Linked DNA regions of Homo sapiens. The protein of the gene in region 5 purifies or fractionates together with the protein of the main gene of each other region. This does not show direct contact. Each region holds a gene or a part of one and is shown on either strand. Other genes may lie near its edges. The genes, in order: ANTXR1, ATP1A3, STOML1, HEATR1, SLAMF1, ATP2B2 and UFSP2.

The links.
Region 1: the proteins of SLAMF1 (region 5) and ANTXR1 purify together in Homo sapiens (affinity purification with mass spectrometry; 2 studies listed by BioGRID and IntAct, with this or other methods). This does not show direct contact.
Region 2: the proteins of SLAMF1 (region 5) and ATP1A3 purify together in Homo sapiens (affinity purification with mass spectrometry; 2 studies listed by BioGRID and IntAct, with this or other methods). This does not show direct contact.
Region 3: the proteins of SLAMF1 (region 5) and STOML1 purify together in Homo sapiens (affinity purification with mass spectrometry; 2 studies listed by BioGRID and IntAct, with this or other methods). This does not show direct contact.
Region 4: the proteins of SLAMF1 (region 5) and HEATR1 purify together in Homo sapiens (affinity purification with mass spectrometry; 2 studies listed by BioGRID and IntAct, with this or other methods). This does not show direct contact.
Region 6: the proteins of SLAMF1 (region 5) and ATP2B2 purify together in Homo sapiens (affinity purification with mass spectrometry; 2 studies listed by BioGRID and IntAct, with this or other methods). This does not show direct contact.
Region 7: the proteins of SLAMF1 (region 5) and UFSP2 purify together in Homo sapiens (affinity purification with mass spectrometry; 2 studies listed by BioGRID and IntAct, with this or other methods). This does not show direct contact.

Annotation. Positions count from the first base shown.
Region 1 is NC_000002.12:69,180,679-69,184,178, reverse strand, and holds part of ANTXR1 (anthrax toxin receptor 1 isoform 1 precursor), read right to left. Parts: intron 2,394-3,500; coding exon 2,298-2,393; intron 1,687-2,297; coding exon 1,519-1,686; intron 1-1,518. UniProt on the Homo sapiens protein: Plays a role in cell attachment and migration. Interacts with extracellular matrix proteins and with the actin cytoskeleton and thereby plays an important role in normal extracellular matrix (ECM) homeostasis.
Region 2 is NC_000019.10:41,987,731-41,991,230, reverse strand, and holds part of ATP1A3 (sodium/potassium-transporting ATPase subunit alpha-3), read left to right. Parts: intron 1-2,629; coding exon of another isoform or gene 2,630-2,668; coding exon 2,669-2,755; intron 2,756-2,853; coding exon 2,854-2,913; intron 2,914-3,091; coding exon 3,092-3,295; intron 3,296-3,500. UniProt on the Homo sapiens protein: This is the catalytic component of the active enzyme, which catalyzes the hydrolysis of ATP coupled with the exchange of sodium and potassium ions across the plasma membrane.
Region 3 is NC_000015.10:73,978,426-73,982,295, reverse strand, and holds the end of STOML1 (stomatin-like protein 1), read left to right. Parts: 3' UTR 1-3,370; downstream 3,371-3,870. UniProt on the Homo sapiens protein: May play a role in cholesterol transfer to late endosomes. May play a role in modulating membrane acid-sensing ion channels. Can specifically inhibit proton-gated current of ASIC1 isoform 1. Can increase inactivation speed of ASIC3.
Region 4 is NC_000001.11:236,556,017-236,559,516, forward strand, and holds part of HEATR1 (HEAT repeat-containing protein 1), read right to left. Parts: intron 3,120-3,500; coding exon 2,979-3,119; intron 2,514-2,978; coding exon 2,221-2,513; intron 1,330-2,220; coding exon 1,179-1,329; intron 243-1,178; coding exon 84-242; intron 1-83. UniProt on the Homo sapiens protein: Ribosome biogenesis factor; required for recruitment of Myc to nucleoli. Involved in nucleolar processing of pre-18S ribosomal RNA. Required for optimal pre-ribosomal RNA transcription by RNA polymerase I.
Region 5 is NC_000001.11:160,640,545-160,644,044, forward strand, and holds part of SLAMF1 (signaling lymphocytic activation molecule isoform b precursor), read right to left. Parts: intron 1-3,500.
Region 6 is NC_000003.12:10,323,523-10,327,586, forward strand, and holds the end of ATP2B2 (plasma membrane calcium-transporting ATPase 2), read right to left. Parts: 3' UTR 501-4,064; downstream 1-500. UniProt on the Homo sapiens protein: ATP-driven Ca(2+) ion pump involved in the maintenance of basal intracellular Ca(2+) levels in specialized cells of cerebellar circuit and vestibular and cochlear systems.
Region 7 is NC_000004.12:185,399,037-185,401,964, forward strand, and holds the end of UFSP2 (ufm1-specific protease 2), read right to left. Parts: intron 1,688-2,928; exon of another isoform or gene 1,443-1,687; coding exon 1,356-1,442; 3' UTR 982-1,355; coding exon of another isoform or gene 981-981; 3' UTR 742-980; coding exon of another isoform or gene 534-741; 3' UTR 501-533; downstream 1-500. Other genes in the region: ANKRD37 (ankyrin repeat domain-containing protein 37), read left to right, coding at 534-741. UniProt on the Homo sapiens protein: Thiol-dependent isopeptidase that specifically cleaves UFM1, a ubiquitin-like modifier protein, from conjugated proteins, such as CD274/PD-L1, CYB5R3, DDRGK1, MRE11, RPL26/uL24, TRIP4 and RPL26/uL24.

The DNA.
Region 1 (3,500 bases), on a different chromosome or scaffold from region 5:
TTTTGATTTGTTGGAGAAGCCCTGATCCAAAATTAGCAAATTAACTCAGCGAATGATGAAAATAATCTTTGTTGCTATTGGAAGGGGGGTAAGGCTGTGTGTGTGTGTGTGTGTGAGTGTGTGTATGTGTATGGATGGTGATGGGAGCTGGCTCTATTGAGTCTTTGACTTGAGGCTTTGGAGTTGGTTCGGTTCTGTTTGCAGCTTGAAACTGGAGTCTGTAGCCCTGAGTTGGGGGCCTTGTTTTCCAGACCTCAGCAGAACAAGGACTTTGCCTATCTCAGTATGAAATCAGAGAGTGGGGACAGATTATGTCTAGAGTCTTTTCAGCTATAATTTTCCAGTGCTCTCTGACAAGTGGCATAGTGCAGATGTTTATGGGCATGGCTAAAGATTGAAGGTGTTAACTGAATCATGTGAATTCAAAGCCATTTGGACCAAGAAGAATAGAAAAGAGGCCTTCAGGCTGGGCATGGTGGCCCATGCCTGTAATCTTAGCACTTTGGGAGGCCGAGGTGGGCAGACTGCTTTATCAGGAGTGCAAGACAGGCCTGGGCAACATAGTGAAATCCGTCCCTCAAAAAAAAAAAAAAAAAAAAAAAAACAAAAATTAGCTGGGTGTGGTGGTGCGTGCCCGTAGTCCCAGCTACTTGGGGGTTGAGGTGGGAGGATGGCTTGAGCCTGGGAGGTCGAGGTTGCAGTGAGCAGAGATCACACAACTGCACTCCAGCCTGGGTGACAGAGTGAGAACCTGTCTCAAAAAATAAATAAATAGAAAATAAAAAAGAGGCCTTTAGGAAACATTAACTGCCTCCAACGGTTTACACTTCCCAATAAACCAAAGAGGATTTTAAGATCTGGAGGTGTGGGGGAAAGACAGATGGTGGAGAAAAAAGATTTGCTTACAACCAGAAAGAGTGAGTCCTAGATCCATGACCAGTGAGATTTGCTGGTGGGCCCTGATACACTGGCAGGAGGCGCAAATAAAAGGGAATGGGCTTATATTATGGCAAAAGGAGTAGAGATTAGCATTAAGGAGAAGGCTGCCATTTTTCTTAGATAGTAGATTGTCTGCTAAGTGAAGTTATGAGATGCTATGGAAATTTATAGTCACTCTCTGGGGTTACTACCCAAGTTACTTGACTCACAGTCCATGCTTTTTCCAGTACCTTGCCATGGTGATTTTTTTTTTTTTTTTAATATGGAACACTTCACGAATTTGCATGTCATCCTTGCCCAGGGGTCATGCTAATCTTCTCTATATTGTTCCAGTTTTACTATATGTGCTGCAGAAGTGAGCACCACGGTGATTTTTAAAAAGCCTAGTTTTCAACCCAGATTATGTGGAAATTGACAAAGTAATTACTAGTACTTTCAAGTCCATAATTTTAGATAATTGTTCCCCTGTGATAAGCTGGGTTTTAGGTTGGGATTTTATCATGTGGAAAGATTTTGATTCTTCACTATGTAAGTGTTTTATCAGGACTGATGATAGATTTTTTGAGTAAAGAGACACACCTTGATTGGAGAGTACCACTTCCGGGGGGAAGAAGGCCGACGCATATTGTTGTTGAGATTTCGCGGCTCAGGGAATTCATATTCCTGCTCCGGCATCTTGACTCTTGCATTCTTTGCCTTTTCCAACTTAGCACCTTCTTCTGTGGAGCCCTTTTCTCCCCAACGAACCTAAAATAAACAAAATACAATGAAATGAAATGACAAAATATGCTGCCCCTCGAGAATGAGAATGACAAATACATGCATGAGTTGCAATGTGAATGCTACCCAACCCTGGATTCCTTTGGGTTTTGAGGGCCAGGGAAGAGGGAAACTGTGGAAAAAGAGAAAAGGGGAGGACCAAAGGAGCAGAGAGCTGAGCCACATGGGTGGATATTTAGGGAGGAATTGTCCAGGCAGCGGGGACAGCACATGCAAAGACCTTGCAGGTTCAGGTACGAACTTTGGATTTTATTCCAGTGAGAAAAGAAATCACGAGGACGTTTGAGCTGATGTGTGACCTGCTCTGACTCACGGTGGGCAAGACATGGAAACGCACAGTGAAAGGCTGTCCCTCCTATCTCTCCATCCGTCTGCCTTACAATCCATATCCCCACCAGACCTCAAGGAGGTTTTCAGCAATTTGCTTTGGGTTTCTGACATTGAGTCATCAGTGTGGTCTACGGCCATACTGCCCTGGGCATGCCTGATATCTAGAGGCTAAGCAGGGTCAGGCCCGGCTGGTACCTCGATGGGAGTAGTCAGCACATAGATAAGTGTATATGAAGCTGTCCTCTTACCTCCATTCTTTTAATGCCTCCAACGCCTCTCCCACCATAATAAGAGGCGTCTACCGTTGGCCACTTTTTCTTAGGCAGACCATCATCATCTTCTTCCTGCAGAGAAATTGTGGCACATGAAGGAAGCAAAACAGCACTGCTGTGTGGACCTGCCTACTACAGCCAAGTGATTAGGAGTAGAGCTTATAGAGTCAGACTGCCTGGGTGCAATCCCAGTGCTACTGTTTCCTAGAACCTTGGGCCAATCACTGAAACCACCTAAGCTTGTTTTCCTTATCTGTAGAGTGGGAATGTAAGCAGTGCTACCTGGTAAGTTTGTGGTACAGTCCTGTTCTCTTGTTCTCTTCTACAGCTCTACTCCTTTGTGGGAATCGCATCTAACCCCACCTACATGCTAATGACTTGTGACTTTACATCTTCAGCCCTGATGCTTCTGAACTCCAACTGCTCACTTGACATTCACATTATTTGGGGGCTAAAAAACATCTCAACAACACCACAGCAGAGATGTCCTGATTTCCCTACCCTAAACATGCTCCTCCTGTAGTCTTCCCCACTGCCTCTCTCTTCTTTACTGCCTCTCCCCAACTTGTCCCAACTTGCCAGCTAGTTCTGTTGCTACTACTTAAAGATCTAAAATCTGTTGACTTCTCCATCCCCACCACCACTATCCTGGGCCCAAGCCCCCATGCACTTGCTCATGGACACTGTGGTAGCTTCCCAACTGGCCTCCTGCTGCCCTAAGACTCACCTATGATCTGTTCTCCACAAAGCAGCAGAGTAAGTGCAAACGCCAGCTCTGCCCTGTGTGTTCTGGCCTTTGCTCACCTTTCTGGCCTTCTTCCTTATCATGTGCCCCCCTCCTCCTGAGCTCCAGCCTGCCTGCCCTCTCTCAAATACTCTGGGCAAATTCCTGTCTTGGGGCCTGTGCACAGTGTCCCCTTGTCCCCTTGTCTAGGAAAGCACTTCCCCCACCCCATCTTCTGATGGATGGATTTTCATATTACTCCTCAGAGAAACCTCCCCTGGAAATTTCTTCTAAAGTAGCCGCGGTCTCTTCATTCCATCAATCTGTTTTATTTTTAGTTAAGGATCTCATCATGGCTTGATATTTACTTAATATCTGTCTCTCCACACTAGAACGTACGTTCCACAGAGGCTTTTGTTTGTCATGCTTACAATTGTATTCCCAGTCTTTAGAAT
Region 2 (3,500 bases), on a different chromosome or scaffold from region 5:
GGAGATTAGCGCTGAGCCGCGCTGAGCCTCCGATCCCAGCTTGGCCCTGGGCCTGCGGGACCTGTCAGCGGCCCCTGCAGCACCCAGCCTCGCCCCACCCCTCCCACCAGCCTCGGACACTGCCCTCCCCATCCGCCCAGGCTCCCAAACTGGAACTTCAGGGACTCACACCATGCGCAGTTCAAGCCAGGACTAGGGCTTCTGCCTCTAACTCTCCTGCTCTGTCCTCCAGGAACCTGGCCATGCCCAGCCTCTGTTAAGGACGCTCCATGGGCCCAACACATGGAAGATCCCAGAGAGAGGCAGAGACAGAGATAGAGGAAGGTACCAGAGGGAGACAGTGAGAGAGACAGAGACAGAGAGACATAGACAGAGATAGAGAGGCAGATTCCAGAGACAGAGAGAGGAGATCTCAGAGAGACAGAAATAGAGAATAAGATCCCAGAGAGAAAGTGAGAGAAAGAGACAGAGAGAGAGAGGAAGATCCCAGAGACAGACAGCGAAAGAGAGAGGAAGATCCTACAAAAAGAGACAGATATATATATATATATATATGGACAGAGAGAGAGAGAAAGAGAGAGAGAGATTGAGGAGAGCCCAGAGAGAGACAGTGGGAGAAAGAGAGACAGAGAGGAAAATTCCAGGATGAGGTAGTAAGAGAGAGAAAGAGAATGAGAGATATATGGGGAAGGAGGGGGACGGAAGATTTGAGAGAGACAGAGAGAGGGAGAGAGAGAAAGAGAATGAGAGATATATGGGGAAGGAGGGGGACGGAAGATTTGAGAGAGACAGAGAGAGGGAGAGAGAGAAAGAGAATGAGAGATATATGGGGAAGGAGGGGGACGGAAGATTTGAGAGAGACAGAGAGAGGGAGAGAGAGAGAGAGAAAGAGAAAGAGAGGAGATCTTAGTGATAGTGAGAGAGAAAGAGAGATTCAGAGATAGAGAGGAGATCCCAGAGAGAGAGAGTGGGAGAGAGACAGAGATAGGCAGATCCCAGAGAGAGATATTAGAGAGACAGAGAGAGAGACAGAGAGAGGTTGAAACAGGAAAAGAGACAGGTAGGGAGAGATGTGAGCATCCCAGAGGAGACAGCTTGAGAGATGAAGATAGAGACACAATGACAGAGAGAGACAGACCGAAAGACGGAAAAAGACAGAGACAGAAAGTACTGATCCTTGAGACGCCAACTCAGAGGGAAATAAGAACCCAGAGAGACAGAAACTCAGCCAGACCTGGGGAGACACAGCCAAGAGATGGAGACAGACATCATGCAAGGCAGAGAGACAAAGAACCAGAGATCAGAGAGAGACAAAATCATAGAAAGACACATGCAGAGAGACCCAGAGACTGGGATCAGGATAGAGAATGACAGAGACAACATAAAGAGATCAGAGCGATAGAGAGAGAGAGAGAGCTATCAAGAGAGAGAAACAGCCTTGCAAAGACAGAGATACAGAGATGGAGAGATAAAGAGACAGGAGACAGAGAGATGATGAAACAAAGCAATAAGACCAAGAGCCAAAAACAGACCTGGAGATACACATCAAGGGAGACAGACAGAGGAGAAAGAGATGGAGATACACGTGGAGACATAGAAAAGACAGATACGAGGCCGGGCACGGTGGCTCACGCCTGTAATCCCAGCACTTTGGGAGGCCGAGACGGGCGGATCACGAGGTCAGGAGATTGCGACCATCCTGGCTAACACAGTGAAACCCTGTCTCTACTAAAAATACAAAAAAATGAGCCGGGCGTAGTGGCGGGCGCCTGTAGTCCCAGCTACTCGGGAGGCTGAGGCAGGAGAATGGCGTGAACCTGGGAGGCGGAGCTTGCAGTGAGCTGAGATCATGCCACTGCACTCCAGCCTAGGCGACTAAGCGAGACTCCGTCTCAAAAAAAAAAAAAAAAAAAAGACAGATATGTAGGAAGGTTGGACAGGGCCAGGGAGAGGGAAGAAGAGACAGAAGCAGAGTTAAAATGTCACATAGAGGTGGGGCACGGTGGCTTATTCCTATAATCCCAACAGTTTGGGAGGCTAAAGCAGGAGGATCGCTTGAGTCCAGGAGTTAGAGACCAGCCTGGGCAGTGTAGTGAGACCCCATTTCTAGAAAAAAATTAAAAATTAGCCGGGCGTGGTGGCACACACCTGTAGTCCCAGCTACACAGGAGGCGGAGGCGGGAGGATCACCTGAGCCTCAGAAGTCGAGGCTGCAGTGAGCTGTGATTGCTGCACTCCAGCCTGGGCATCAGAGTGAGACATTGTTTCAAAAAACGAAAACAAAGTCACATAGACACAGAACACAAAAGGGGAGAGCCCCGCAAAGATGGGCACAGAAACAGAGAGAGACTGAAACACAGGCAGAAGCCAGACAGGGACCTTCGGGGACAGAGACTCAGAGACACACAGAACCAGAGACAGGGAAGCTGATTGCAGCAGATGAGACTCACGAGGCCTGAGAGTCACCAGAGGCAGAAGGGAGGTGAAGTCACCCAGAGGCTCCGGGAGACACAGGGAGACCCCGAGAGGCAGACAGAGACCCCCCACCCAGAGATGCAGGGGCACCGGCCAGGAGGATAGCTGGGGCATGGAGGGCCGGTGTCCTCCTGGAACCCCTTCTCGCCCGCAGTCTGGTGGCTCTGACAGCTATCGTATCGCCACCTCGCAGGACAAGAAAGATGACAAGGACTCACCCAAGAAGAACAAGGGCAAGGAGCGCCGGGACCTGGATGACCTCAAGAAGGAGGTGGCTATGGTAAGCCTCGCCCTCTGCCCGCACACCCTCCCAGAGAACCTCGCCAGTTCTTGGCTGGCCTAGGCACTCACCGTCTCCCCCAAACTCCTGTTCCTCAGACAGAGCACAAGATGTCAGTGGAAGAGGTCTGCCGGAAATACAACACAGACTGTGTGCAGGTGTGGCCAGGCTGTGGGCTGGGACCCTGGGAACTAGGGAGGAGGAGCTGGGGGCTAGGACCCCTGGGTCTGAGGGAGGAGGGGCTGTGGCTGGTGTCTTAAGTTCTGGGGGTCTGGTGAAGGCCTGGGGTGCCAGGGTTGCCCAGGGAGGGTTCTGTGTGAGTCCTCTGTCCCTCAGGGTTTGACCCACAGCAAAGCCCAGGAGATCCTGGCCCGGGATGGGCCTAACGCACTCACGCCACCGCCTACCACCCCAGAGTGGGTCAAGTTTTGCCGGCAGCTCTTCGGGGGCTTCTCCATCCTGCTGTGGATCGGGGCTATCCTCTGCTTCCTGGCCTACGGTATCCAGGCGGGCACCGAGGACGACCCCTCTGGTGACAACGTGAGTGCCTGGACCCTGCCCTGTGCAAGGCTCTGCACATTTATTTACGGACACCGCACCCCAACTTCTTCCCATCCCTCTAAGCTTTTCACAGCCCACTCTCCCCCTTTTTCCCATCTAACTCACAATCACCCAGCAAGAGAACCAGATCAAATACAAGGCAAACTGAGGCTCAGAAAAGCCAGGCTACTTGTCCAAGGCCCCA
Region 3 (3,870 bases), on a different chromosome or scaffold from region 5:
CACACTGTGGCCACCCTTTGAGGCCCAGTGAGACTTGTCCTCTGTGCCCTTGCCTGGCTCTCTGCACCCATTCCACATTGTGTGTTTCTGCTCCTTGCATATATGGCTGCCCTCCCTGCTGGACTGGGAGCTTCCTGCATCAGCATTCACCTGTGGATTCCTTCCATTGCTATTACACAGTATATGAAGGGCTGCCCAGGAAACCCCAGGCATCTTCACCATGAAAGCTGGCACGGCCCCTTGGCTGGGGTAGGGCTGGAGGGTAGGGAAGACAGGAAAAATGAGATCACAACTTAGGGGAAACCCAAACTCTTCTTTGTGAGCATGGGAAGATCAACATAACGTTTAGGGGAAACCGAAACTTTTCTGGATGTCTGTGTAGGTGGAGAGTAAGGCCTGCCCCTGCCATGAATCCCCACCCTGTGGAGGGGAGCTCGATCCTTGGCCAGCACTCCAGGACTACAGAGGACTGAGCAGACCCTGCAGTCCACAGGGGAGGAAGGACAAGGGCCACCTAAAGGGTCGGTGTGAAGAGGGAGGAGGAGGGTGTGTGTCAATCAGAGAAGGCTTTCCTGAGGAGGTGATGTCCTCCACATCCCAGCTACCAAGTAGGTGGACAATAAGAAGAGATGGGGAAAATCATTCAGCAGAGGAGAAGTCCCTGCAAGGGCACAGCTGGAAGAGGCAGTCAGGCAACTGGGCTTCGGGGAACTAGAACCTGAAGTACCAGACAGGTTGTGTGCGGGCATTTGAGGGGCAGGGTATAGAAATAGTAACCATTACTGTGTGCCAAATATGTCCTTATACCGGACTAGACACTTCTTATTATATTTTTCTTCAAGATAACCTGGTGAATAATGATAATAGTTTAAGTATCCTAGTTAATATATTAATATATAATGTGTTATTTTGATGTTATTGAAAAGTATTTTATTTTTTTTTGAAACAAGAGTCTTACTCTGTTGCCCATGTTAGAGTACAGTACAATCTCAGCTCACTGCAACCTCTACCTCCCGGATTCAAGTGATTCTCCTGCCTCAGACACCTGAGTAGCCAGGATTATAGGCGCATACCACCACACCTGGTTAATTTTTGTATTTTTAGTAGAGATGGGATTTCACCATGTTGACCAGGCTGGTCTCGAACTCCTGACCTCAAGTGATCTGCCTGCCTAGGCCTCCCAAAGTGCTGGGATTATAGGTGTGAGCCACCGCACCTGGCCTTATTTTTAAGCATTTAAAAAAAATTTTTTAGACCGTCTTGCTCTATCACCCAGGCTGGAGTGCAGTGGCATGATCATAGCTCACTGTAGCCTTGAACTCTGGGGCTCAAACGATCCTCTTGCCTCAGCTTCCTGAGTAGCTGGGACCACAGGTTGTGCCACCACAACCGGCTAATTTTTAAAATCTCTTTTGTAGAGATAAGGATGTCTCCCCATGTTGCTCAGGCTGGTCTTGAACTCCTGGGCTCGCAGGATCCTCCCACCACAGCCTCCCAAAGTGCTGGGATTACAGGTGTGAGCCACTGTACCCAGCCAATATTTAAATTTTGGTTGGCTAAACATTTAAAAAGATAGGAAAGCATATTATGAAAATTCTCCCTCCACACATATTTCCCATGCCTTCCCCCATCCCCTGCGATTAGTTTCTTGGTAATTCTTCCTGAAGGTTTTGTTTTTTAAAAAAAAATATATGCAAGAAAATCCAAATATGTATCTTCTGGGTTTTTGTTGTTCCTGTTTTTATACAAATGGCAACATAGAAACACAATGTTGCCTTTTTCACTTAACATTACCCACTGAGGATCTTTCCATGTTACCACAGACAGCCTTTCCCTGTGCTTTCTTGTACTTACATAGGATTCCACAGTATGGATGTATCATAAATTATTCAACCTGTCGTGGACCGATAGACATTTTGATTATTTCTTGTGTTTTGCTATTTTAAATACTTTTGCAATGAATAACCTTTAACATGTGCTATTTGTGGTAGAGTTTATCTATAAGATAAAATCCTAGAAGTGGAATTGCTAAATCAAAGCATTTATAATTTAGTAAATATTGCCAGAATACCTTCTCTGGGGATTATACCAATTTACACTCCCATTGTCAGTGGTGTTTTTTTCTCATAGTCATGTCAATACACTGTGTTATTAAACTTTTGGGTCTTTTGACATTCTGGAAAGTGAAAATTTGTATCTCAGTGTAATTTTTTTGTTTATTGTTCAAGTTATTTTTTTGTTTTTTGTTTGTTTGTTTTGAGACAGGGTCTCACTCTGTCTCCCAGGCTGGAGTGCAGTGCAGTGATTGTGGCTCACTGCAGCCTCAACCTCCCAGGCTTAAAGGATCACCATGCCTGGCTTTTTTTTTTTTTTTTTTTTTGTAGAGACAGGGCCTTCTCAAGCTGGTCTCTAACTCCTGGCCTCAAGTGATCCTCCCACCTGGCCCTGGCCCGCTAACTGCTAGGATTACAGGCATGAGCCATCTAGCCCAGCCTGTTTATTGTCCAATTGTTTATTGCTTTGTAAGTCTTGGATTTCTAGCTCCAGCAAAGAACAGGGTTTGGTTTGGTTTGGTTTCTCTTCCCCTAGCATTTACATATTTTTTAAAGGTGTAATTTACATACAACAAACACCCTTTTAAAATGTATTATTTGGCTGGCTTGCGCCTCTAATCCCAGCACTTTGGGAGGCCGAGGCAGGTGGATCACCTGAGGTCAGGAGTTTGAGACCAGCCTGACCGATATGGTGAAACCCCATCTCTACTAAAAATACAAAATTTAGCCAGGCATGGTGGTACACGGCTGTAGTCCCAGCTACTCGGGAGGCTGAGACAGGAGAATTGCTTGAACCCAGGAGGTGGAAGTTGCAGTGAGTTGAGATCATGCCACTGCACTTTAGCCTGGGCAACAGAGTGAGACTCCATCTCAAAATTAAATAAATAAAGATAAAATAAAAAGTGTCATCTGAGGTGCTTTGACAAATGTGAACACCTGAGTAACCACCACCCCCTACAATCAAATACAAAACATTCCCATCCACTCACAAAGTTCTCCACGTCACTTCCCGTCAGTGCTTGCCACCTCCAGCTTTGAGCAGCCACTGACCTTTCCATAACCGCTGATCACATTTCACTTTTCTAGCATTTCATATGAATGAAATGAGTGCACAGTACTCTTCTGTGTCTAGCTTTTTCCCCCTCACTGTAATGGTTTTGAGAGTAATACATGTTATTCTGTGTATCTGTAGTTTGTTGTATTGCCAACACATTCCATTGTCTAGATAGAGGCACAATGTATTCATTCATCCATTGATGAACATTTGAGTAGTTTTCAGGTTTGGTTATTAAATAAAGCTCCTCCAGACATCTGTGTACAAGTCTTTGTTTGGACATATATTTTCATCTGGGTAAATACCTAGAATTGCTGGATTGAAAAACTGTCAAACATTTCCAAAGTGGTCCTGTCAACATGCGGTATAGTCAGTCTTTTAAACTTTAGCCACTCTAACAGGTGTGACTGACAATGTTGAGCCACTTTTAATTTGCTTATTGGGCACGTGTCTTCTTTTGTGAACTATCTGTTCAATATTTTGCTTATTTAAGAAATGGGCTATTAATATTGTTGAGCTTTAAAAGTTCTTAGTATAGCTGGATGCAGTGACACATGCCTATATTCCCAGGTACTTGGGAGGCTAAGGGAGGATCAGTTGAGCCCAGAAGTTCGAGGCCAGCCTGGACAACACAGCAAGACCTGATCTCTTAAAAGAAGAAGAAAGAAAGAAAAAAGAGAGAGAGAGACTCTCCATACGTTGCCTAGGCTGAGTGCAGAGGCACAATCCTGGCTCACTGCAGCCTCAACCTCCTGGGCTCAA
Region 4 (3,500 bases), about 76 Mb from region 5:
AATCTTCTTCTTTAAGTCAAAGTTTACACATTGCAGTACCACCTCTCCCTTCTCCAAAGTCTTAATACCCAATAAGATCTAACCTTCCAGTTCTTCTCAATCTGCTTGTAAGTTTTTTTGATGGCGGGCAACAGGACTCGGGGTGCAAGTGTGGTAGCCAGTGTCTTTTTAAGAGATGTGAGACGGATATTAGCCTGTGACGCAGAACCCATTTCACTAGTGATTTTCTCCAGATGAATCACCTACAGGAATATAAAAAAAGTGATCAGGGCCACTGCAGATCTTCGCTGACAAACACACACTTACAGAGAGGCTTCATGATGAGGTACTAGTGTTTGGAAAATGCTTAGCACTTTTTAACTACACACAGAATTCCTTTTAAAGTCAGCCCTAAACGTCAGTGGATAAAACTGGGCAGACACCTCTTGCCCAACTTGCGATCAGGGACGAAGGCCGATGGTAGACGCAGACGCACACACAGCACCCAGACAGATGATTTTCTTAGAGGACAGGAATGCAAGGGACCACGGCAAGAGTCAAGTTGCTAAAAAACTGAGAAAGCTCCTCAGAGCACAGGCCCCTTTCTCTGAGAAGGCTACTTTTAAACCCTGGCTGTGGTGTAAGTGAAGCGGTTTAATCATTTGCCCCATGGTAATGAAGGCTCCTAACCTTGTAAATGGCAAATGATCAACACAATGGAACAGCCAGGTCTCAACATTCTTGAGCATCTTCAATCATAAATACCACTGGCCCCTAGCGTGTTGACAGGAAACCGCTGACGTGCAATACAAAAATTCTGCTTTGCAAGATGCCTTAGGATTATACCTCTCACAGTAGAAACAGGGCCCATCAATTTCCACAAGTAATAAAAGGCGGCTCTACCAGCCCAACTCCAAAGATCTCACAGAAGAAAAAAAAGCCAGAATACATTCCGCACAATTAAAGAAGAGAAGCATCTCGCTAAAAAGTGACCCCCATATCAATTTCAAGATTAAGTGGCAAGGATGATGGAAGAGAAAAAGTACACATTTAATAAAAGCAAGCACATCTCTTCAGAAATAAGACTCCTTTCTGTCAAACGGAAACTAACCCTTAAAGAAAAAACAAAATCACTACATTTGTGATCTTTTACCTTCCCCAGCCACCCTGCGTAGCATGTCGTGGCTATCGTGGCTCACCTGGGAGAGAATGCCTTCCAGATAGGGGCTGATGAAGTGCGGGAGAGTCTCCACAACCTTCTGCAGAGCAGCCAAGGCACTGAGCAGGTAGACCTCGCTGGAGACCAGCTCGCTGGTGTTCTTCATTGTTGTCAGCAACGATGGCATCAGGCTAGAAACAAAGTAAGAGCTTTAGAAGAACTTGAAGCAGAAACAGAGGCTAGGGAATGGAGTAGAGGGCATTATGAAAAAAACCAGCAAACTGTGCCTATTACATCGCTATCTGCTTCATAGCCTAAAAAGCAGTGTCTATACATTTTATGTGGCTAAGCACAAGAAATCTCCCAGTGCTAACAGTACGGACACAACAGTAATTTAAAAAATAACAATGTCTTTCATTAACTGAACACTTACTATGTGTCAGGCACTATGCAAAACTCCTTGCAAGCACTGCCCTACAGAAATCCTATGAGGTAGATACTGTCTCTGTTTTATAGACAGCAAAGCTCTAACAGGTTAAGGAACATACTGGCTGTACAGTAAGGAACTACCACAGCCAGGAGCTTCTAACTTCCAAATTTGGCAGCAGAAGGCAGCTTTGGCCTTGCCTAACTGGGTGGGCCCCTCTGCCAAGAACCTTCACCCACTGCTTTTTGACTATACTAGACAAAAGGAAGGAAGAATGGAGGACGATTAACACTGCAAAGTAGTGCATCTGAAGATAAACGGGAAGGCTGCATCTTTCTGTTTGAAGATTAATTATTTTTATTATTATTTCTTTAAGAGACAGGGTCTCACTCTGTTGCCCAGGCTACAGTGCAGTGGTGCAGTCATAGCTCACTGCAGCCTCAAACTCCTGGGCTCAAACGATCTCCCTGCCTTGGCCTCCCAAAGTGGTGGGATCACAGCCGTGAGCCACCACACCCTGCAAGATCAATTCTTTAACAAATTCCAATTTTATGCAACGTCTACTCAGAGGAAAAAAAAAAAAAGTCACCAAAGTGTTATTTTTCAATGTGTGCCAGGCGGTAACAGCTCCTGTTCCAAGTCTCCGGCCGCATACCTGGGAAGCTGGGGGATGGCCAGCGCCTCCAGGGTGGAGGTCACCTCTGCTATGCACAGCAGCGCGCTTCCCAGGACATTCTTCTCCTCCTTTCTCTCTGGAGCAATCAGTTTCACAGCAGTGTTCAGCACTGGGACAAAAGGATCTGGATTTTCTGCACCAAAATTCTTGCATAAAAGCTTTAAGGTATACAACGCTGTCTGTCTGTTGATTGCTTGTTCTTCTTCCCCTTCCTTTTTCTTACGCTGCACAATGGCCAAAAGGTCTGGAACCAGTTTTAGGAAACGGGTAACCTGAAGGGGACAGCCAGAATCCCCAAATCATTAAAGCTGCAAAAAATGTTTGTCCATTTTCCCATTGTCACAGCTTGAGATTGTCTAAATGGAAATCAGACTCGGGGGTCCTGAGTCACACAGTCATGCTAAGCGATGTGCATGTTCTAGCCAGTGTTTCACTTATACAAAGCACCCACTGATCTGGAGTAAAAGGGACTTAGAACTATGCTAAGGCTAAGGCCACGTAAGCTCTGTAGTAAGCAAGAATTCCACTAGGCTGAAATTCCATTCTAAGAGCTCTTACAACACACATATATTCCCGTTAGAATTAACGTCACATTTTAAAACATGTCATGGTATTATATTCAGAAAATAATATACTTCAATTTGAAATTGTACCACTAGAGAAATTGAAGGGAGTTAAATGCAGCTCTTTGATAAAGCAAAGTACAGTAAATGGGTGTGTCCTGGGTCTTCACTCACTATTGTCTTCTTCCAGGATATATTTTGCTGCAGCTTGTTATTCAAAAGGTCCAGCGCTTTGCGGCGAACAGATGGCAGGGGATTGCCCACCAGCCCTCTGATCACAGGAATGAATGTCTCTGTGGGCAGCAAGGCATTGACCTAAAGAGAAATTTTATATTTAACATGAAAAGAAAAACAAATTAAAAAAAAAACCAACTTCAATTAAGACAGACTGCTGTCCACTGCACACCTCCAGGCACCAGGCACTTCCACACACATTTTCTTATTTAATTCTTAAAATAACCTTTCAGGTAGGCATTACCAACCACACATTATCGAACAAAACAAAAGCCTGATGTCAGGAGGAAGTGCCAAAGGCATGCAGCTAAATGACTGAGCTAGATTTGAATCAGCAATCCTAACTTCGAGGCCAGTGATATGTATGTAATATACTTCATACTTTTATTTTATTCCACTTGAATAAAGTAGAACAGTATATATTATATGACTTAATTATTAAAATATACGAGGTACATGTTC
Region 5 (3,500 bases):
AGTAATGCAGCTACCTAGAAGAGACTCTTTCACAACTGACTTGTGGCTAAGATGAGCTATTGGAAAATTGGACACACTGGCCCAAATATTCTTGTCACCAAAATACCCCGAAATCCCCATGTTGCTCAGTAAAGGGCTCAGCTAATAGTAGACTAGAGATTCAGTGATTGGGGAAGAAGAAAAAGAAGTCTATCTGGGCTAAAATCTGGCCTAGAGTGATTGAAATTCTTAATTGTTGAGGAAAAGTGAGAAAGGCAATTAGGCATTTGTCTTTTAAAATATTGCGAATATATTAAGCTTAAAACAGAGTGCTCTCCCCTGCTGCTTGATGACATGAGGAACATTATAGTTATTGTGGTGGTGGTGGTTGTTTTTACATTAATATACTGGGAAGCATGTTGGATTTTCTTCCACCACACTTATGGATGCCTGACTGTCTAGATAATGTGACCCCTTTGGTGGCTACATACCTGACTTGTAGGCACAGTACCTAAAAGAGTAACTTCTTGAATCCTGAACCTAAACTTCTGTGTATAAAGAAATGAGAAAAAATTTAAAGCCATATGTGCAAGTATGAACTTCCAGACTTTTGTATAAAAAGTTGTATAGATGAGCGTATACATATTTTTCTGGGAGCACATCCATAAATGCCATCTCTTAAAGGGATCTGAGATTCAAAACAAGATTAAAAATTGCTAGCGTAGTGTTGATTTTTAAAGACCAACTTTGATAGGGAGAAAAAAAGAATAAAAAATCCCATTTTCAGGCCATAACCCATCGCCACCACTCCCCAAAATGGCTCCCATGCACTCCTTCCCCACCTAACCTTGCACACTCTTTGCGCCATGGTTGCTTTCAGAACTTGGAGTTGATTGGGGGAGGAGAAAGAGGGATATAAGAGAGGTAGGGAATAACCAAAAAAATAAAAAAATAAAAAAATAAAATAAACGAAAGAACATAGAAGGAGAAAGAGGAAGAGGAAAAGGGAGGGGTAGATGAGAGAGGCTGAGTGGTTTTATGCACACTCAGTCATGAGGAGTGGAACCAAAACTTCATCAGGAAGAGACCCTTATACCCCACAACCCACATAAAGAATGATGACGCAATACCTGAGTGTGTGAGTGTTGGGGTCTGGAGGGGGTACTTGAGATCACCCTCACATAAGCACAAGGTGGAAAAATAAGTGGGGGCTTTAAAGTGGTTCATAAAACCCCTCGAGTGGCGTCCCTGCTCCTGAAACATCCTGCTAGATGAGTGTTTTCCAGTGTGTCTGTGATTCAGCCAGCCCTTATTTACTAAAAGAGTCTGGGAGGAAACATTTGTAGCTGTTAACACCAACTCACTTTCCTTCATGGGTAATTCTACTTCGAAAAATGAGTGATTCACATGGGCCTATGGAGTTTGGTCAAAAATTATTAATAGTAGGATTTAGCCAACCCTCTCACAAGATGGGCTTCTACCTAATGATAACTCTTTTTGTTTTATTGTATTATATTTTTTTGCCTAGCCCTGACACTTTCATATGTGCTTTTAGCATCTTGCTACAGTATTCTTTCAGGTACAGAAGGAACAGAACTTACAGACCCCACAGTTCTTTTGGTAAATTTAGGCTCAGAAAGAAAAGACATCTTGTCTGTGTTTGCTTTTTAAACTGTATCCCCATCAGTCAAAGTCCTATTTTTATTATTTGGCACTGCTGGGTCTTTCTATCTTAGACTATTAGTATGTACGTTCCCTAGCCTTAGAGGCTATAACCACTCTTTATTTGCCTAGCTAACAACTTCCATCTTTCTGGTCTCCATTTTGACATCTCTTTCATAGGGAAGACTTTCCTGACTCCTGACTTAGGTTGGGTTTTCCTGTCACAGACTTCCAATGGACAATGAACGCACTCCTTCATATCATTCATCACGTGTTCAACTCTGGTTCAATGCCTGTAATCCCCCACTCTTATAAGCTTCCAAGAGTAGGGACTGTGTCTGTTTTATTCACTACAGTATCCCTAACACCCACCTGGGACATAGTAGGAGCTCAGTAAATCCTTGTTGCCCAAGTGAATTAATAAAACAGAATGGGATGAATGAAAAATGAGCAAATGACAACACAGAGTCCAAGTTCTCCTCCCTCCAAAAGCAGAATGTACTCTGATTTGCCTTTATAGTATCCCTAAGAGGTATATTATGGAAGAAAGTGGTGGGGACCCTTTTCCCCACTTGCCAGCTGAGGACATGGAAGTGCCTTAAATATAAACCCTAGGTTTCAGGTACAACAGACAACTTGCCAAGAACACTTGAAACCCTTTACCTCTGCATTTGTGCCTCCTTCTAGAACGCTCCTTCTCAAGTTCCATAAAAATCAAGCCCATCGGACCCATTTATTTGGGGCTAAGTTTTTAATATTCATTTTTATTAACTTTATCCCAAATGTGCACATGAGATATACTGGATTAGAGTTAAATTTCTTATTAAATGACTCACAGTAAATAGTAAATGCTTTGGCCCCCCACTTCCCCCTAGGATGATGTGATAAGAGCAAGGTCAATTGCTCTATGTGAGTAAACAGACACTCCATAGGTAAGAAACAAGGACAAATTATTTTCCCTACCTATAAAAGAGGGAGGAGGCAGCTATCCCCCCTCCCCGTCTTAAAGGTCTGCTCCTTATTCCAACACTTTGGTAGGTAGATAAATCTCTCCAGGAGCCAGATAGTCCGTTACATGTCTTGGCTTTTATGGCAAGTCCTGGGACTTGACTCCAAGTTCTGGGGCTCATTCCTTCTTGCATGCTGCATAATGATGGCACAAGCTTATGCTGGCCTGCTTAGGAAGATAGTGACTCCAGGCTTCATGGCACCCTGGGCGCTCTACCTAGGGACCTTGTTCAGGCTATAACCATTTGCTCCTCTCGGGAAAAATTTTATTATTCGTTTGGATCAGAGCAATTACCTATGCAAATAACTACAGATTTAATTCTTATGGTATGAAAAAATGTCAGAGCTAGTACTCTTCACCAGGACACTGAAAAGTCGAGAGAAGTTTTATTTCCCCACCCTCTTTATCTCTGATTTCTTCTCTGCCATGTTAAAAAATTGATACATAATAGATGTATATATTTTCAGGGCACATGTGCTGTCTGATACACTCACATGTTGTGTAAAGATCAAATCGGGTTAATTGGGATATGTATCACCTTGAGTATTTCTCTTTTCTTTATGCTAAGAACATTTGAATTATTCTCTTCCAGTTATTTTGATATGTACAATAGATTATTGTTAACTATAGTCACCGTACTGATCTATCAAACACGAAGACCTATACATTTGGAAAGACACACAAGAAACTGGTCACAGTGGTTGCCTCCAGCATGAGGTATGGAAGGGAAATTAGTCTTCACTAAATACTCTTGTGTACTGTTGAAGTTTCATAGACATGACATGTTTTATAGATGTGATAATCAATAAACAAACTAGTTAACAAAAAAAAATTAAATGAACATTTGCAT
Region 6 (4,064 bases), on a different chromosome or scaffold from region 5:
GGGCATATTCTCTTTCTCTGCCAATGTTCAGCAGAGGTTTGTGAAGTCCAGACTCCTCAGGTGCCAGGCTTCCCTCTGCCTTACCCCTCTCCCCAGTAGGGGGGTGCCACCTAGATCCAGTGTCTGTATTCCGCATCTCCTCCCTCTGGTTAATCCAGACCCCAAATCAGGCCAACTTTCCCTGATTTTTGCCCCCCCACCCCTTGCCCCCAAACCTCCTCCGCTTCGTCCTGAGGCCCCGTTCCCCAGTCTTCTTCTATGAGATGGTCAACCATTCCTCATAGGTTAATGGCTCATGGCAGGGTGAGCCTGTCTCCCTCAAATGGTGGGTGTTCAAAAGGTGTGATCTAGTGGAAGGAGAGAGACTGCCCGCTGAGCTGTGGGCCCTTGGGCAAAGTGCATTTCCCTCCCAGGGACTCAGTTTCCCCCTGAGTTCAACTCCACGAAGGGCGGGGACCCAGCTGTCCTTCAGAAAAAGGCCTTGTGATGTGTACCGTGTCTGCATTTCCACGTGTGCATTTATTGTTATTGCTCAGTATAGTGTTGAAAAGGCAGACAAATCCCATTAATTACAAAGAGCACAAGCCAAAGATACAGAGAAATAAAGAGTGTACAATAAGAGCACAGTCACTTCCCAGCCCCGATTGTCCCAGAGCCCCCCAGAGCCCGGGCAGCTTACGGAAGCTGGAGGCGGCACCATTCCCTCGCTACTCTATTATAAAATATGTGCACACAAGAGTTAGCAAAGTGTGGTGACCCCCGAGAGGAAAGGTCCAGGAGGGAGAGCACCACAGGCATTACAAAACAGACTTAGGGGGCTGAGAAGGGCAGTCCCAAAGCAGCCTCCAATATTGTTTTCAGTGGAGGGGGTGATGGCTGCTGCCTGGGGCTGGGGACCCTCCTCCCCCACCTGGGTTGGTATGATCTCTACATTAAAATCAGGAGAGCTTGGTTTGGAACTTTGAAAAGGCCTGGGGACTTCCTGCTATTGTCTGACTTCCCTCCTGGCTCTGGAAGGCCTAAAAGCCTTCAAGAAACGCTCTTCCCTACAAGAGCCTCTAATGGTGGGATTTTGGACACAATGGCAGGAGAGAGATTTGGGTGGGAGGCTTGTCAGAATGCACCAGGTTGGCAGCCTCCTGCAGGTAGCGCAAGAGTGGGCTAGGGGAGTGAGGGTTCCGAGAAGGCCCAGGCAAGAACTGCCTGCATCCCAAAGGTACTGGAGACTCCAAATTAAAGAGCAAGAAACTATCCCCCCAAAACAAAATGAAACAAAAACAACAAAAAACCAGTTCAGGAAAGGGAGATAGGAATAAAGGTTTCTCCATGATGAGAATTAGAAGTGCAGACAACTGGGCCACACATTCTTTCCCAGCTCCAGGCCTAGGAGAGACTCCTCTTTCTCGTCTGGACCAGGGACAGATGGCGGGTCCACCCCAACACAACCAAGGTGGGTGACTTTGGTTCCCAAGCTGAGATTGAGTGGGGGCCTGGTGACCTCTCATGACAACTCCTGGGCTTAGGGGGCAGGTGAAATGATGGGAGGAACAGCAGGCTTCTCTCAAGATCAGGATGCCCTTTTTGTCCCTCTTTACAGAACATAGTCTATTTCACAGCCCTGAGTGGACAGTAATTACAATGGGGGGAAGATGATGGCACAGGGAATGACAGAGCCCAGAATTTGGGGGTGGGAATGGGACAGGGGGTGGAGGACTGGGCACAATTTAAAGTTTATGTGGAAGAATAGATGTGAGAGAATAACTAGGAAATTTTGTAAAAGAAGAGTGAAGGGACTCATCCCACCACATAATAAGACATTAGAAATTGACAATAGTTAAAATTGTATGGCTGGTGCCAGATGAGACACCCAAGTAAGCGAAGAGAAGAGAAGTTCCAGAAATAGATCTAAGTCTATGTAAGACATCAGTGTGTGGTAAAGGTGGCATTTCAGCATGGTTGGGGAAAAGAGTGGCTTCCAACAACTGGAGGACCCAGGACAAGACAGGTTCAGAGTCCTTTGAGCCAGTGCAGTCATTTTAATTGGTCCAGTCTCAGAAATAGGACTGCCTCTCTCTTGTCATCTCTATGCTATGGTTGGGACAAGGGGACAAGGGGCCATGGTGAGGGGTTGGCGGGAGCAATGGAGGCTGCTCCTGAGTTAAAGAAAGCTCCGCCTGAGTTGCAAGAAGGAAACTCCTCAGAGCTCTCTCTGCTCACCTCCAAAGATGAGTGATTCTGCAGCGCCAGGAGTCACTGAACGGGCTCCCTGCCCTTCCCTCATCTGTTGAGGGGGAGACAAGTTGGTGAGCTTAGCTCTCAGAACCAAATCTGCCACTTACTCCTGGAGCCCTTGTCTAGAGGACAGAAAAGAAGCTATGTGGATGATGCAGTCCCAAAGTAGAAAAAAGTATACATTACAGATATATTTACTATGTTCTGTTTGATGTTGTTTTTTGCTTTTTTTTTTAAACCACAAACATTTCAGAACCACACTGCACGAGTCAGAAGAGCCAGCGATTGAAAGCATAACCATTGCATAGTATTAAATGAACAGAGATGGTGAGTTCTTTATTTACATTATTGTCTAGATAAAAAAATTCATAAAAACAGATGAATGGTCATAAATTATTTACCCCCTAATGGAGTGAACTGCCAAACGTACCCCATGCTGCTAGATATAGGACGCAGAGTGCAAGCTTTATGTACTACAGTGAGTTTTGACAAACCAACCATTTCGTGTGTGTGTGTGTGTATGTGTGCAAGTGTGAGAGTGAGGGGGTGCATGTGTGCAAGCATCCTTCATTCCTGACAAGAGAAGACCAACGCTAATGTTGGCATTCTTCCATCGCTCCCTGTTCCCTAAGCCAGGCTCCACTGAGAACCCCTCCTGGCTCCGAATGAACATGGAGCATGGTGTGCAAACACAGCTATCCTGATGTCATGGAACGAGGTCACGGACACATGACTGATCAAAGAAGTGGGGAGATGGAAAACTGTGAGAAAGGAAACTCCAAAAAACACCATGTTCCAAGGCTGCCCCATGTTTTACACGTGCAGATCTTTCCTTCCTTGTAGGAGAGCAGTGGGCTGGCTTTGGTGGCGTTTGTACTGGAATCCAATAAGCACATCTGAGGGCTGGTCACCCCTTTGGTTATGCAGTTCCTCTCCTGGATACATTCAGAGATACTTCTTCACGACATTCAGGTGATGCGCTCTTGAAGGTCCTCCTTCCAGGAGGATTTTGCCAGGTGGGATGGGCTGACTTTGAACCCCAAACCCTCAAGTTTTTCCACCGCCATCCAGATGTAGGCCCTCCCAGTTGACTATGGCTCTTTTCCCGAGTGGCTCTCATCTTGTTTGTGGAAGAGTTCTCTGGGCCTGGAGAAGGGAAGGGGCTGGGCTGACACAGCCATCGTGAGGAGGGTCAGCATGAGGAATGGATTTTGCAAGAGAGGCGGAAAGTGTTTGGTTTTCCTCGAAGCATGGGACATCATCGATCATGGTATTCAAAATGTCTTTTGCACTGTACAAGTTTATGGAAAAAAGATCATATGCTGAAAAGTCTCAAAGCAAACTTTGTATTAAATACAAAAGTTCTTTTATGAAAAACGCTGAGACCCACAAAGTGCTTAGCAGTTAAGAGGCTGACATCCAATTAAATAAGCTCTTATTAAGTGGGATTACTAGTGCTGTTGTCTTGGGGAAAAAATAACCACCTTTTCTCACCTGTGATACTGTAGGGTTTCAGAATGGCTTTCTGTTTGGGAAAGCAAGACTTGCTGTTAAAAGGCTACAGTATATATTGTGACTACAGGAAGACAATTTGGTTTAAAATCACACTGAGTACATCTCAATATACACATCATAAGGTTCATTCGGATCTAAATAGTGCAGAGAAAAAGGCTATTCTTCTTCAAAAATAAAAATAAAAGCAGCAAGCCATACTGATCCTCATCCAATATGCCAACAGCTCAGATGCTGCCATTAATAAGGAAACAAACCTGTAAGTTACTAAATAAAAAAAAAAATCAACACAATACCATTTATAATATTTCAACACTACC
Region 7 (2,928 bases), on a different chromosome or scaffold from region 5:
GAAAACAGTGGCTTCACATTTTATGTTTTCTTGGATTAAACTAATCAGACTCCTGAAGCTTAGTTACATGTGCTTTTAAAAATAATGCTTGCGTAATTGATAATTTAGTGTTAATCATTTAAATGTTAACTTAGGTTGTTGGTGCTATCGAATAATACTCAGTTCGAGTAAGTAAAAAGTCAGATCCTGAGCAATCAGAGGTGCAATTTTGTTCATTATGACTGTATTCTACTTCAGTTTCGGTTCAGGAAAACCCATTCTATAGTTCCCATTGACTACCTTTGGGTACTCATACACTGTATTAAACATCAGATAATTCTAACATTCATTCAGAACTGGAATGCCCGCTCTATGCTGGATTCTGTTAGTTGCTGAGGATACAATAGTGACCAAAAATGCAATTTCCTTATGCATCCTTTACCTCTTCTGTTCTGCAACCAACATTTGTATGAGCCCAAAATTCCCTTGTAAGATATAAAAAAAAAGACTTAAGTTCAATGTTTCATTTCACTCCGTTTTTATCCTGTTTTCAGTTTATGTAATAAGAACGGGCAAACAGCTGAAGATCTCGCTTGGTCATGTGGATTTCCAGACTGTGCCAAGTTTCTTACAACAATTAAATGTATGCAGACAATAAAAGCAAGTGAACACCCTGACAGGAATGATTGTGTTGCCGTGCTCAGACAGAAACGGAGTCTCGGAAGTGTAGAAAATACCAGTGGGAAAAGGAAGTGCTGGTAAGTAACTCAGAGCTGCTGCTTTTTTCCTCCCGCAGTGATCTCTTGTTTGCATAGCATTTATTATTCCATTTAATACTGACACTCGTATTTCTAGTAGTATTGTTTCATTCTCATTAACATTTTAGTACTGGTTATACTTACCAGAGTCTAGAGACCAAAAATGGGACTGCATGGTGGAAGTTTGGGGATAAAACTCTTTTTAAAAAAAAGTTTTTAATGTTAACGTGTTTTTAAAAACAGATGTCACGTGGGTTATGAAGAAGTCTGAAGAACGCCTTCATTTCATGCAAATCTATAAGCTCCTGCTTTTGGCTTTACCATATGTTGTGTCTAATCTCCTTCTGAGAAGGACGAAAAACTTTCTTCCAAGTGAAGATCCATTTAAGAACACATGTATTTACATGCCTATAATATGCTGGTTGTGTATGCTTTGTCTTTTAAGTTATTAAAGGAACGTCTAAAAAATACATTCTCCGTGCAGTATTTACAACCTTTGAAAAAGGTCATAATTTAAATCGTCAAACTAGAACCAGGATTTAATGTGAAAAATTAAACTGATTCTTTATTCACAAATTTATAATACCACTCTACTGCAGTCTTTGACTCCAAGATATTTTAAATCATATTTGGTCGCTGAGGAAGACATAAGTTATAGTATGCATCCTTGTTCCAAAAATCTGGGCCCTTCCATCCGCACCAGCCCTGGATAGAGAAGACGGGAAAGGAAAGCCTTTTACAAAGTTACAAGATTATGTCATGGAAATCGTGACATCAGGCTCTGTCAGCAGGACCTTGGAATAAGACTCTAAATGGCTTTATCATTCAAGGATTTGAATTCCTACTAGCATAGAAAAGTAACGTATCTTACCCTTTAAGGTAGGTTTTTGAACTTTTAATTCTATGTATGTAATTCATCATAAAAATCATTAAAAAAAATTTACCTGTAACTGTTATTCCAGATACCACACTTTACTGATTCTGAGATGTATAGTTTTACCACTTGCAACTGATAGCATGTGACAATTGAACTAGCAATCTGTTTTTCTTAATAGTCCATAAAGGACTGTAAGAGACCATTCAGTGGCATCTTAGGATTGAAGTACTGTAGTGAGAAACCTCAGCTTGCCCCCTGCCTGGCACTCTGTGCCCTTTCATTTTCAAATTCCAGGTGTTACTCAATTCTACTTCCCATGTTTCATGTCAGTATTAATCCTTTTTGCCAGCAGAGAAAATTACTTTCAAGCAAAATCTCATTTAGAGTATGAAAATTTCTCAGATTTCTCCTAGGGCCACTGAGTTATTTTATTAAAGAAGAAAACTTAAAAGCCAATAACTGGTCTGTATTATATGATTCTTAAATGCTTTGAGAAATCCTTGCAAGGAGGCTGAGACTCTGAAAATACCATGAAGTGAGTGACAAGCAGCGGTCTGACTCCCTCCTAATAAGATACACGTTGTCAAAAAACAAGATAAAAGTAAAAAATCCTCTACCAGTCCTAGGTAATCCCCCACTCTCCCTAGGTAACCAGCATTCTATTAATCATCTCATTTTTTCAGCAAAACTTTCTCTATTAATTTAATGTCCTAAAATCTGTTCTCTTAACAGACAGAGAAAAAAGGCTCATTCTGTTTTAACCTTTTTTTGATCCTTTTACACATGAAGGCCTTGTCCAGGTAACCAGATCCAGATTTTTTAAAGGAGAAATTGGTAGAGAGGGTGTCAGAATGGGATTGCATAGGGACATAGTGCATAGGACATGCTTCTTTCCTGTGAGATGACCAGCATGGGAACTTCAAACAGGAAAGCACCACAAGAAGGCAAAGAGGTCAGGCAGAGATGGAACTCTCCTCTGGCCTCCTGGGTTCCTGGAGTCAAGTGAATCAATAGTTTTAATGGCAGGACCTTGGCTGCACAGTTTCTTGTGTATACAAATAGAGCAAGGAGGTTTCTGCTGTTGAAAAGTTCTATAGAAATAGAACTAGCAAAGATGGAGATTGCAATTCTCAGAGAAAGAAATCAGGGACAATCCCTTACTCTAATTGTTCAGAAACCTTACCTAGATAATGCCATGTAGTGCAGAGCCCCTTGAGTCAACCAGAAAAGAGAAATTTGATGATGAAAATAATTAAGGCTTCTCCCTGCCTTTAAGAAAAAATCGAAATGCCTGGTTCACAAAGACCACCCTTT